Regions from separate parts of the Homo sapiens genome. Here all the other regions are linked to region 1. The links come from fine-mapping of genetic effects on gene expression. A gene starts in region 1. Each other region holds a variant in brackets. All regions are shown on one strand. Distances are between the middles of the regions. Region 1 holds the start of TMEM245 (transmembrane protein 245). Region 2 overlaps ELP1 (elongator acetyltransferase complex subunit 1). Region 3 overlaps ELP1 (elongator acetyltransferase complex subunit 1). Region 4 overlaps ELP1 (elongator acetyltransferase complex subunit 1).

The links. PIP is the estimated chance that this variant, and not a neighbour inherited with it, causes the effect.
Region 2: its variant is fine-mapped to the expression of TMEM245 in whole blood (Lepik 2017, PIP 0.95). The same link has a PIP of 0.9 or more in NK cells.
Region 3: its variant is fine-mapped to the expression of TMEM245 in whole blood (Lepik 2017, PIP 0.93).
Region 4: its variant is fine-mapped to the expression of TMEM245 in blood mononuclear cells (TOPMed, PIP above 0.99).

The regions. Positions count from the first base shown.
Region 1 is chr9:109,118,268-109,121,030 of GRCh38, reverse strand. It overlaps TMEM245 (transmembrane protein 245), which reads left to right and starts at 1,084. Exons shown (of 18, transcript NM_032012.4): 1 at 1,084-1,696. The coding sequence starts at 1,118. RefSeq lists silencers at 935-984, 1,125-1,294, 1,645-1,754 and an enhancer at 1,405-1,454.
Region 2 is chr9:108,894,071-108,896,570 of GRCh38, reverse strand. ELP1 (elongator acetyltransferase complex subunit 1) reads left to right here. Exons shown (of 37, transcript NM_003640.5): 25 at 1-75. Among named protein-coding and RNA genes, the nearest start is that of ACTL7A, 33 kb to the right of the region's middle. The variant C/T (reference allele first, on the strand shown) is at 1,465.
Region 3 is chr9:108,877,269-108,879,768 of GRCh38, reverse strand. ELP1 (elongator acetyltransferase complex subunit 1) reads left to right here. Exons shown (of 37, transcript NM_003640.5): 33 at 212-323; 34 at 1,019-1,146; 35 at 1,620-1,774. Among named protein-coding and RNA genes, the nearest start is that of ACTL7A, 16 kb to the right of the region's middle. The variant G/A (reference allele first, on the strand shown) is at 1,382.
Region 4 is chr9:108,883,458-108,885,957 of GRCh38, reverse strand. All of the region lies in intron 29 of ELP1 (elongator acetyltransferase complex subunit 1), which reads left to right. Among named protein-coding and RNA genes, the nearest start is that of ACTL7A, 22 kb to the right of the region's middle. The variant T/C (reference allele first, on the strand shown) is at 1,255.

The sequences.
Region 1 (2,763 bases):
GCAAGGTTTGAAGCAATCACATGTTGAGTACTCAGTCAAGGCTTTCTTTTTTTTTTTAAATCAAAATGTTGATTGGGATATTTTATGGGTAGCAGGCTTGGATCCCAGCACTTTTCCAATAGGGGAACAGAAGCACCTTGTACCGCCCCAGAGTTTCCCTTCCCCCACACAATAACCCTAAAGCAAAAGCTATTATTATTATCATCGCCATGTGACAGAGGAAAACTTGAGATTGGGGGCTTAACTGACATTACATCAAGTCTCAAAAAGAAACAGTGGCAGTTTGAGACTTTGATCTACGACTCTTTTAAGAGTTTAGATTGCGTCCACAGCGAAACCTGCACAAACAGTTGTCAACAGCGGCTGCAAATTACAGGCTTATGAGGAACGTTTGAAAAATGCCAAGAGTTCTTTCCTCAGGCCAAATACTATGGTAGATAAAAGTATAGCCTTTGGAGCCAGAATCCCTGAGTTTGAATCTTGCCTGTGCCACTTGGTAGCTGTGTGACTCTGGCTGCGTACTTAACGGCTCTGTCTCAGTTTTTCTGTTGGTAAAATGAGGATAATAACACCTTCTTTGTAGGGTTGTTCTAAGGATTAAATGAGTTAATAGGAGTGAGCCACTTAGAATAGGGCCTGTTATATGGTAATCTCTATTTAAAATCCTGTCAGATACACCAAAGAAAACACTTTAAAAATATCTGTTAAATAAATCAGTAAAACAGAATCGGGGCATTGGTTCTTTAAAAGTACTCCCCCACGGTATTCTAGTATGCAGCTTGGGTTTTAATATCTGAATGTGGCGCCTTTTGGGATCTCGCCTCGCGAGAAATTGACATTAACGAATGAGTGAAAGGAGCTTCCCCCCCCCCCCCCCTCCAGGAAGATATAGACCCTGCAAACTTGTTAGCAGGACCTTGCGGACACCAAGGAGGCGGAGGCGTTTTCCCCATTTCCCCTTCGGGAGTTGTAGTTTCCTGCAAGCGCTTGGTGGGTCTGTAAACCAGCGGGGAACTACAACTCCCACAATCTCGCGCGCCTCCCGCCCTGCCTCCCGCCCGCGTTTCTAGCCCGACTCCCATTACCGCCCCTCGGGGGCGGCTGTGGCGGAGGAACGATGGCCGACGGCGGCGGCCCTAAGGACGCGCCAAGCCTGCGGAGCTCTCCCGGGCCGGCGCCGCGGGTCCCGCGCGCGGTCGGGCCGAGTGGCGGTGGCGGGGAGACCCCGCGGACCGCGGCGCTGGCGCTGCGCTTCGACAAGCCCATTAAGCAGGCCTTCTACAACACCGGGGCCGTGCTGTTCGTGTGCCTGTGCTGCGGCGCCGCGGTGCTGGTCTACTTCATCCTGGAGGCCTTCCTGCGGCCGCTGCTCTGGGCCGTGCTATGCGGCACTTTTCTGCACCCCTTCAAGAGCTCGCTGACGCGCCTGGGCCGCCACTGGCTGCAGCGCCTGCACCGCGCGCACACGCCCATCGTCCTGGCCGCGCTGCTCCTGCCGCTCTGCTTCGTCGACTACGGCGTCGAGGCCCTGGGCGAGCAGGCGCTGCGCCGCCGCCGCCTGCTCCTGCTGCTCGGCGCCGGCGGCCCGCTCCTGTACGGCCTCTACTGCCTCGGCAGCTACTTGGGCGTGCAGGTGCTGCTGGTGCACGCTGCCACGCTCATCTGCCGCGGGCTGGACTACTTCAGCAGCCTGTGGGTGAGTGAGCGGCAGTCCGCCCCCGTCCCCCGCCCGTGGTCCCGGCGCTCTGGGGTGCAATCCTGCAGCTGTTCCTCCCGGTGCAGGGGCGACGAGGGGCCACACCTGTGCTGCAGTGACCGTCCGTCTCCGCTTTCCTTCTCACACCTCAGGAATTTGGCGGACATTCTTCCAAAAAGGGGGCGGGCGTGATTTGAAACAGCCTCCCTGCTTTTCGCCTTGTTTCAATCCTAATAGGCCCTCTTAGGGGGACAGTGCCCTGGATTGAGAATCGTTATTTCGCTTTGCAGAGAGAGGCCTCAGAGCATGGCAGTGGGGCTTGGTTTTACTTCTGGTTGGAGAGGGCGGGGGTGCTTCGGCCACCCTCAGTTCTGCGCATCTGAATGTCAGAGCTGGAAGGGACCTTAGAGATTCTAGGCCAACTTGCCATCCTGCAGATAGGAAAGGTGACCTCTTACCAGGCTAGGGCTACTTAGGGACAAAGAGGGGTTTGGGTGTCTTAGATTTCTTACAAGTCCTAAAACAAAGCTTGCTTCACTGGCTGGTGCTGCCTCTCAGTTCAGGTGATTCCTGTATAATTTGTGCAAGGCACTGGGTGCTGAGCTGCCTGTGCTTCTTCCTCTCCACGCTTTACTTTTAGGTAACTGCTTTTGTTGTGCAGGGACTGGTGTACCACAGCACACCTCCTCCCGCCTGGAGTAAAGCAGCTGACCGCGTGAAGGGGAGAGACGTAGATTTGTGATGCTTGGATTAACCTGAGCTTACTCTTACAAAACCAGGGAGCTTTAGAATTGGAAAGATTTCAAAGGTAATCTAGTGACACAATTCCTAACTCAGACTATATTGTGGACTAGTTAATTATCCACATATTTAACTGGAGACTGTTAAAAACAAGTGGAGATTTAGTGCGTAAGAATGCCAATTGATTCATAAACAGTACCATTTACAAATTGATTCACTTCTTTTGTCAGTGAAATAAAGTTCAGTGTACCTTGACGTCATTAAGTTGGAAAATATTAATTCCCCTTATCTGTCTAGCGGTGTTTTGGCTTGCCTGAGGTTATTGG
Region 2 (2,500 bases), 220 kb after region 1:
AATGAATTATATGATCATTCTCTTGGCACCTATGACTTTGATTTGGTCCTCATGGTAGCTGAGAAGTCACAGAAGGTATGTGGAGTTCTTACTTTTATGCCATTTGGTTCTTGTTTATATAATGATAGTGTGAAACCCTGCTTCTGGTAGTGCAGTAGCTTTTCTGCTATCACTCTGTGAGTGCAGGGCTGGAGACAGATCTGTGAGTTTCTAGGGCCCACATTCCTAAGCCCCTGTGCTTATGAAAGTGTTTTGATTGTGAGGTTGAAGAAGTGAAGTAAAATTGCATGGCTTTTTTTTGTTTCTTTTTTTTTGAGACGGAGTCTCACTCAGTCGCCCAGGCTGGAGTGCAGTGGTGCGATCTCGGCTTACTGCAAGTTCCACCTCCCGTGTTCACGCCATTCTCCTGCCTCAGCCTCTCTAGTAGCTGGGACTACAGGTGCCCATCACCACGCCCGGCTAATTTTTTGTATTTTTAGTAGAGACAGGGTTTCACTGTGTTAGCCAGGATGGTCTCCATCTCCTGACCTCGTGATCCGCCTACCTCAGTCTCCCAAAGTGCTGGAATTACAGGTGTGGGCCACCATGTGCGGCCTAAAATTACATGGTTATTTTTAAGATGATGGGCATATGTGTGAGCTAATTTCTTCTCTTATAAAGGAAATGTAACAAGTGGTTCATGTTCCACTCCGGTTCTTTCTCACATGGCTCTTTTTTCTAGTGGAGGGTGGGCACATGGAGCACAGAAGGCTCATGGCCTCCTTTCCTATGTTGGTACATTTGCTATGATCAAAAACTTTGAACACCACTGGTATGCATATTTTTTATTTATTTTTTTGCAGCCTCAGTCTCTTCCCCATGACCTCTCCAAAAATGAAAATCGGATCCTTCATCTCTCTGCTTAAAATACTTCATGAGCTCCCATTGTTCCGAGGATATAATTCAGAAGCCATAATACTGCTTAAAAACCCTTCCTTGACCTGGCCTCTGTGTATCTTTCCATTCTCACTTCTTGGTATTGTCTTTTTTTCCTCTGCCCATGGAGGAAAGACAATGCTTTTGTCCCCCTTCCCTTGCCCCTCACCACCACATGCCTTGGTGGGCAGCATTACTTCTGCCATCCATGGGCTTTGACTGCTTCCACCCTCACCATTCCCCTGGCTAATTCTCACTAATCTAGGTTAAAGGATGCCAAGGTGGCCTCTTCCCAGTAAGCCATTCATGCTTCCCTCCAGGGACTGGGTGAGGTGACCCTCCTATATGCTTCTGTTGCACACAGTGCCTACCCCTGCAGACTACAGTGTGTCTTTATCTAGAGTGCGGTATTTATTTATTTATTTTTGAGACAAGGTCGGGCTCTATCACCCGGGCTGGAGTGCAGTGGCACCATCTTGGCTCACTGCAACCTACGCCTCCTAGGCTCAAGCAATCTCACCTCAGCTTACAGGCGTGCACCACCATGCC[C/T]GGCTAAGTTTTGAATTTTTTTTGTTGAGACGGGGTTTCGCCATGTTGCCCAGGCTGGTCTCAAACTTGTGAGCTGAAGCAATCCATCTGCCTCGGCCTCCCAGAGTGCTGGGAATGAGCACTTAATTATTTGTTGTCTTGGGTTTTCTTCCTATGTTGTTCTTACATGTATTTATCCTGTCAGCCCAGGGAAATTGCATTAAAAACAGGAAACACCTCTCCATTAGGAAGAAAAACAATTTGCTTACAGGGCATGGCATAGAGCTGGAGATGATAGTGCCAATAAATACTAGGTTGGCAGGGTCTCAGAGTTTTGTGTCCAACTCAGTATAATTTTATGTTTGTTTTAATGTGATCATTTCAGGAGAGCATGGAATGTCATGAAAACAGCACCAAGAGCAATGTCTTAGACTTTTAGGAGAAACTTAGATGCATTTGTTGAATATCTTCTAGACTGAAACCTTATTTCCCTTATTAGCCTATGAAATAAATGATACTGTGAGACTTAGTTAAGGAAGTTACTATTATTCCAAGTGTAACTTATTAATATCCGTATGTGAAAGCATTTTTGCCAAAGCTTGTTTGATGTTCAGCTGACCCTTGCACAACGTGAGTTTCAACTGTGCGAGTTTGAACTGTGTGGGTTTATCTAAATGTGGATCTCTCTCAAACACAGTTGGCCCTTTGTGTCCACGGCTTCTGCATCCACAATCAGTGTGGATCAAAAGTACAATATTTGCAGGATTTGAAACTTGCAGATACAGAGGGCCAACATTTTGTGTATCCAGGCTCCATGGGGTCAAATGTAGGACTGGGGTATGCTTGGATTTTGGTATCCTTGGGGTGTCCTGGAACCAATTCCCCATAGATACTGGGGGACAACTGTAGTTTGATTTTATATATTATATAATATGCAGTTAATATATAATACACATTTAAAAATTATGTAGCTTTGGGTTTATTGCTATATGTAAATGCTAGTTTCTATTCCTATATATGAATATCACAAGTAATAAAGTTCTCATTAATCATTTTT
Region 3 (2,500 bases), 240 kb after region 1:
TTTCCAGAAAAAAGTTCAGGAAACTACTGATTTACATTAGTAATTACTGTATTTAATATTATCTCATTCATTTTGAGATCAACTTTGCAATCATTTTCATCCATCCTTTGATATGCACCAGTTGACTCTAGTTAGTTCATTTACCGCCCTGAAAGTAAACCCACACATTAGCAGGCAGTGTTTTCATCGGCTTCTGGTTCTTCTTTTCTAGATGATGAGGTACCCCACGGGCAAGAGTCAGACCTCTTCTCTGAAACTAGCAGTGTCGTGAGTGGCAGTGAGATGAGTGGCAAATACTCCCATAGTAACTCCAGGATATCAGCGTACGTATCACATTGATTCAGCACATTGACTATATCCTGGGCATATAGGGAAAGTGGAAGCAAATAGATTGGTTTTCTACTGGGACGGTGTAGTGGGAGTGGGGAGAATATTCTTCAGCGCTGTGTGGAAGTTGTTCAGACACTTTCCCAGCATATCTGAGACATTAAACTTGGCATTGGAAGGTTTTCTTCCTCAGCCTTGTGGCTTGTGTGTTTTCCCATTCCCCACGAGGCAGTTCCTCCCCTGAATGCTCAGTTTATATTAACATCTGATTTTATTTTTTGAACAAATGTTGTGACTAAATTATAGGCACTGAAAAAATGAAAAGATAAGCTTCTTCAATTCAAAATCAGGATTGGAAGAGACCATAAATGTAAAATAAGTCATAACACTTTTACCAAATATAGTAATTTGTCAGAAATATTTATTCAGCACTCATATGGTAGGTGCAGTAGATGTTACCAAAAACTTATAAGGAGATATGAGTTATAAGAGTTTATAGTCTTGCTTGGGATGTGTAAAGCAATGCAAGATTATATATTCAAACTGAATTTTGCTTTAGGAATTTAAAATGGAGATCTGTGAAGTTGTGTGGGGTCATCAGCAACTGCAAGAAAGTAGCCAGGCAAGGTAGCACATGCCTGTAGTCCTAGCTACTCAGGAGGCTTAAAAATATCTGTGTAATTTCTAACAGGAGATCATCCAAGAATCGCCGAAAAGCGGAGCGGAAGAAGCACAGCCTCAAAGAAGGCAGTCCGCTGGAGGACCTGGCCCTCCTGGAGGCACTGAGTGAAGTGGTGCAGAACACTGAAAACCTGAAAGGTATATTCTCAGTCCTGATGATGATTCCTGACCACAAACAATAGTGAATAGGCAGTACAGACAGGCAGAGTTCAGTAGGTGATTAAGCTACCATTTTCCCAATTTGAGGAAAGATGAGAACTTTTAGCAGGAAGGGTCATGTCTGCACACATTCCTGAAGCAGCCCTTCTTAGCTGGTAACTGAGAAGCCTTCCTCCATTTGGCATCCCCCTAACTGAACTGGGAGAGATGCTTA[G/A]GCCAGGATAAAGAATTGTGGGACACTGCTTTCTGCGTAGGCCCCCCAGCGTGCTTGATTTTCTTTTTGTAGTACATGTGTTTAATTATTCCAGCATTTGGGAAGAAAAAAGATAATGTGGGAGAAAGGACCTGCAGTGGGATCATAGAAATTTTTGGCTTTGGATAGAAGCTATGTATGATTCTGTCAATGGAGCTGGGAATATAACTTACCACTCTTTCAAATTTCTTCTCTCTAGATGAAGTATACCATATTTTAAAGGTACTCTTTCTCTTTGAGTTTGATGAACAAGGAAGGGAATTACAGAAGGCCTTTGAAGATACGCTGCAGTTGATGGAAAGGTCACTTCCAGAAATTTGGACTCTTACTTACCAGCAGAATTCAGCTACCCCGGTAAGTTTTCTCAGAGACGGTGTGCATTTTTTTCATCATTTTCATGGGTTATTGTATTCACACAATCTCCAAGTCAAAAAGTTTTCCTGTTCTTAAAACATAAGATGCCATAGTTAAATTATCTTAGATTTATGTGTAAGCTGTCAGTAAGATTTGATATTTGCCTGTAGAGTGACTAGTATACCTTGGCATAGGTTAAATGGACTGTCATTTTCCTTTCTGGATGAAGTAGCTGTCATGGAGAAAATGGGAAAGTCACATGATTGCTCCTGGCCTTCAATGAGGTTGGAGTGGGGAGAGATGGGGGAAGATGGGGTCAGAGACGGCCTCTCACTTTCCTTTCAGAACTCAGGGATGGGATCAGGCTTTAAAGGGACCCCAGGCAATTGCTTTTCCTTTTGTTTTATGAAAAATTTGACTTGTCACTTCTATGTTGTTATGATGGACTTTGCGGGTTGTGTTTAAGGCTGAATCAGCTTTGTATCGCAGAATTCTAGTATATTGTCATCTGTTTATTATTTATACCTCTGTTCACTCTCTTATACTTCAAGTCTATTGTTAAGAGTTTTTATTTGGATTCAAAAAGGCTGGTGTATCAGTCAAGATCTAGAAAGGAAAACAAAAGCCTATCTATTATTTTATCACAGAATTTAATATATGGATTTGTTAAATAAGTATTAGAGGACTAAACAAGGCAAAAGGGAAATACAGAGGAAGGACATTGAG
Region 4 (2,500 bases), 230 kb after region 1:
CAAGAAGGAGTGGAAAAACCTTGACATTTTTTTCCACTGTGACTCACTACCCAGTACTTTTCCACCCTTAGCCCCCTTCCTTTGCACCCATACCCCCAAGATCCATCAAACTGCTAAAGCCTTTTTTTCCAAGCTCCTTCAACAGTGAACCAACCCTCATGTCTGTGTGGATCCAGCTGACTCTTGACTAGTGAGTTGTTCCTTGGGAAAAAATGGAACAGAGAGAGTTGGTGCTTTCCCTGGTTTTAGCCTCTTGCTTATACCAATGCAATGCCTGAAGGCTTAATTCATTTTTGACTTGTTGCTTTGATCAGCTACTCCAACACCTGACAGCTCAGCTCTTTCTCCCAGCTCTTGGGAGATATTTTTTTCTTTAAATGTTTAGTAGAATATACCAGTAAGGCCATCTCGGCCAGGAGTTTTCTTTAATGAAAGCTTTTCCACTATTAGTTCAGTTACTTTAGTAGACATTAGCCTATTCAAGTTTATCTGTGTCTTCTGGAATGAGCATTGGTAGTTTATGTCTTTCAAGTAATTTGTTCATTTCATCTAAATTGTCAGATTTATTGGTATGAAGTGTTTATAGTATTCTCTTATTTTACTGTCCGTAGGGTCTATGGTGATGTCCTGTCTTTCATTCTAGATATTGATGTGTCTTCTTTTTTCTGATTATTCTGGCCAGAGGTTTATCAATTTTATTGATCTTATTAAAGAATGAACTGTTTCATTGTTTTTCTCTATGATTTTTCTGTATTCTATATCATTCTTTTTTTATTATTTTATTATTTTATTTGCTCTTTATTTTTCTAGTTTCTTAAGGTGATGGCTTACTTTTATTTTTTTCTTATTTTTTTCTTTTGTTGTTGTTGTTTTTTTAAAGAAACAGGGTCCCACTCTTGCTCAGGCTGGAGTGCAGTGGCACGATCATGGTTCACTGCAGTCTCAAACTCCTACATTCAAGCTGTCCTCCCCCCTCAGCCTCCAGAGTAGTTGGGATTACAGGTGCATGCCACCATGCCTGGCTAATTTTTAATTTTTTTTGTAGAGATGGGGTGTTACTAGTTGCCCACGCTGGTCTGAAACTCCTGGCCTCAAGTGATCCCTCCACCTCTGCCTCCCAAAGTGCTGGGATTCCATGTGTAAGCCACTGTGCCTGACCAAGGTGATGGCTTAAAGCTATTGATTTGAGATGATTCCTTACTTTATAGTTTAAGCATATAATGCCATAATTTTCCTCAAGCACCGTTTTAGTTA[T/C]GTTATACAAATTTTGAAATGTTTTGTTTTCATTTCCTAATTTCCCTTGTGATTTCTTTATTGAACCTTGGCTTATTTAGAAGTATGTTTAACTTGCAGATATTGGAGATTTGCCAGCCATCTTTTTGTTATTAATTTCTACTTTAATTTTGTTGTGATTAGAGAACATACATTTTATTAATTTAAATTTATAATTTATTTTAATTTATAATATGGTCTGTTTTACAGAATGTTGTGTGTGTATTTGAAAATAATATGAAAGCTACTATTATTGGATGGAGTGTTCTATAAATGTCAGTTAGATTAGGTTGATCATGCTGTTCTAGCTTTTTATATCCTTATTGATTTCCTCACTACTTGCTCTATCAATGACTGGGAAAGTGTTGAAGTCTCCCAGTATTTGTCTATTTCTCCTTTGATTCTACCAGTGTTTGCTTAATGTATTTTGAAGCTCTGTTATAGGTGCATACATGTTTATGAGTATGTTATAGATGTATTCATTTTGATATCCTTCTTTCTCTGTTACTATTCCTAATTCTGAATTTGACTTTAATGTTATTAATATAATTCTTCCAGCTTTCTCTTGGTTAGTCTTTTCATTGCATATCTTTTTCTATCCTTTTACTTTTAATCTAGCTGAATGTAGTCTTTATTTTGAAAGTGCGTTCCTTGTTGATAGCATTATTGGTTCTTTTTTTTTTTTAAATCTAATTTGACAATCTCTGTCTTTTAATTGGAGGGTTTAGACATTTGCATTGAATGTGATTACCAATATAGTTAGATTTAAACCTACAGTCTTGCTGTTTGCTTTTTGTTTGTTTCATTGATCCTTTGTTTCTTGTTTTTTTCTTTTTTTGCTTTCCTTTGGATTTAGTATTTTTCATAATTCCATTTTACCTCCACTGTTGGCTTATTAGCTATACTTCTTCATTTCAGTATTTTAGTGGTTGCTGTAGGATTTATAATAAATATCATTAACTGACCATATCTTCAGATAATCGTATACTACTTCATATATAGTGTAAAAACCTTACAAGAGTATTCACTCCATAATACTTTGTTATTGCTTTTGCTTTAAGTGATCAATGATTGTTTAAGGAAATTTTTTAATGACCTTTCATGTTTATTCTTTTTTTTTTTTTCCAAAAGATTCAGTATTTTCCGAGTTTTCAAAAACTGCTGGCCACTCAAAGTGGATCAACAAAAATTTAAGAGCTAAAACTGTAAAACTCTTGAAGGCTGGGCA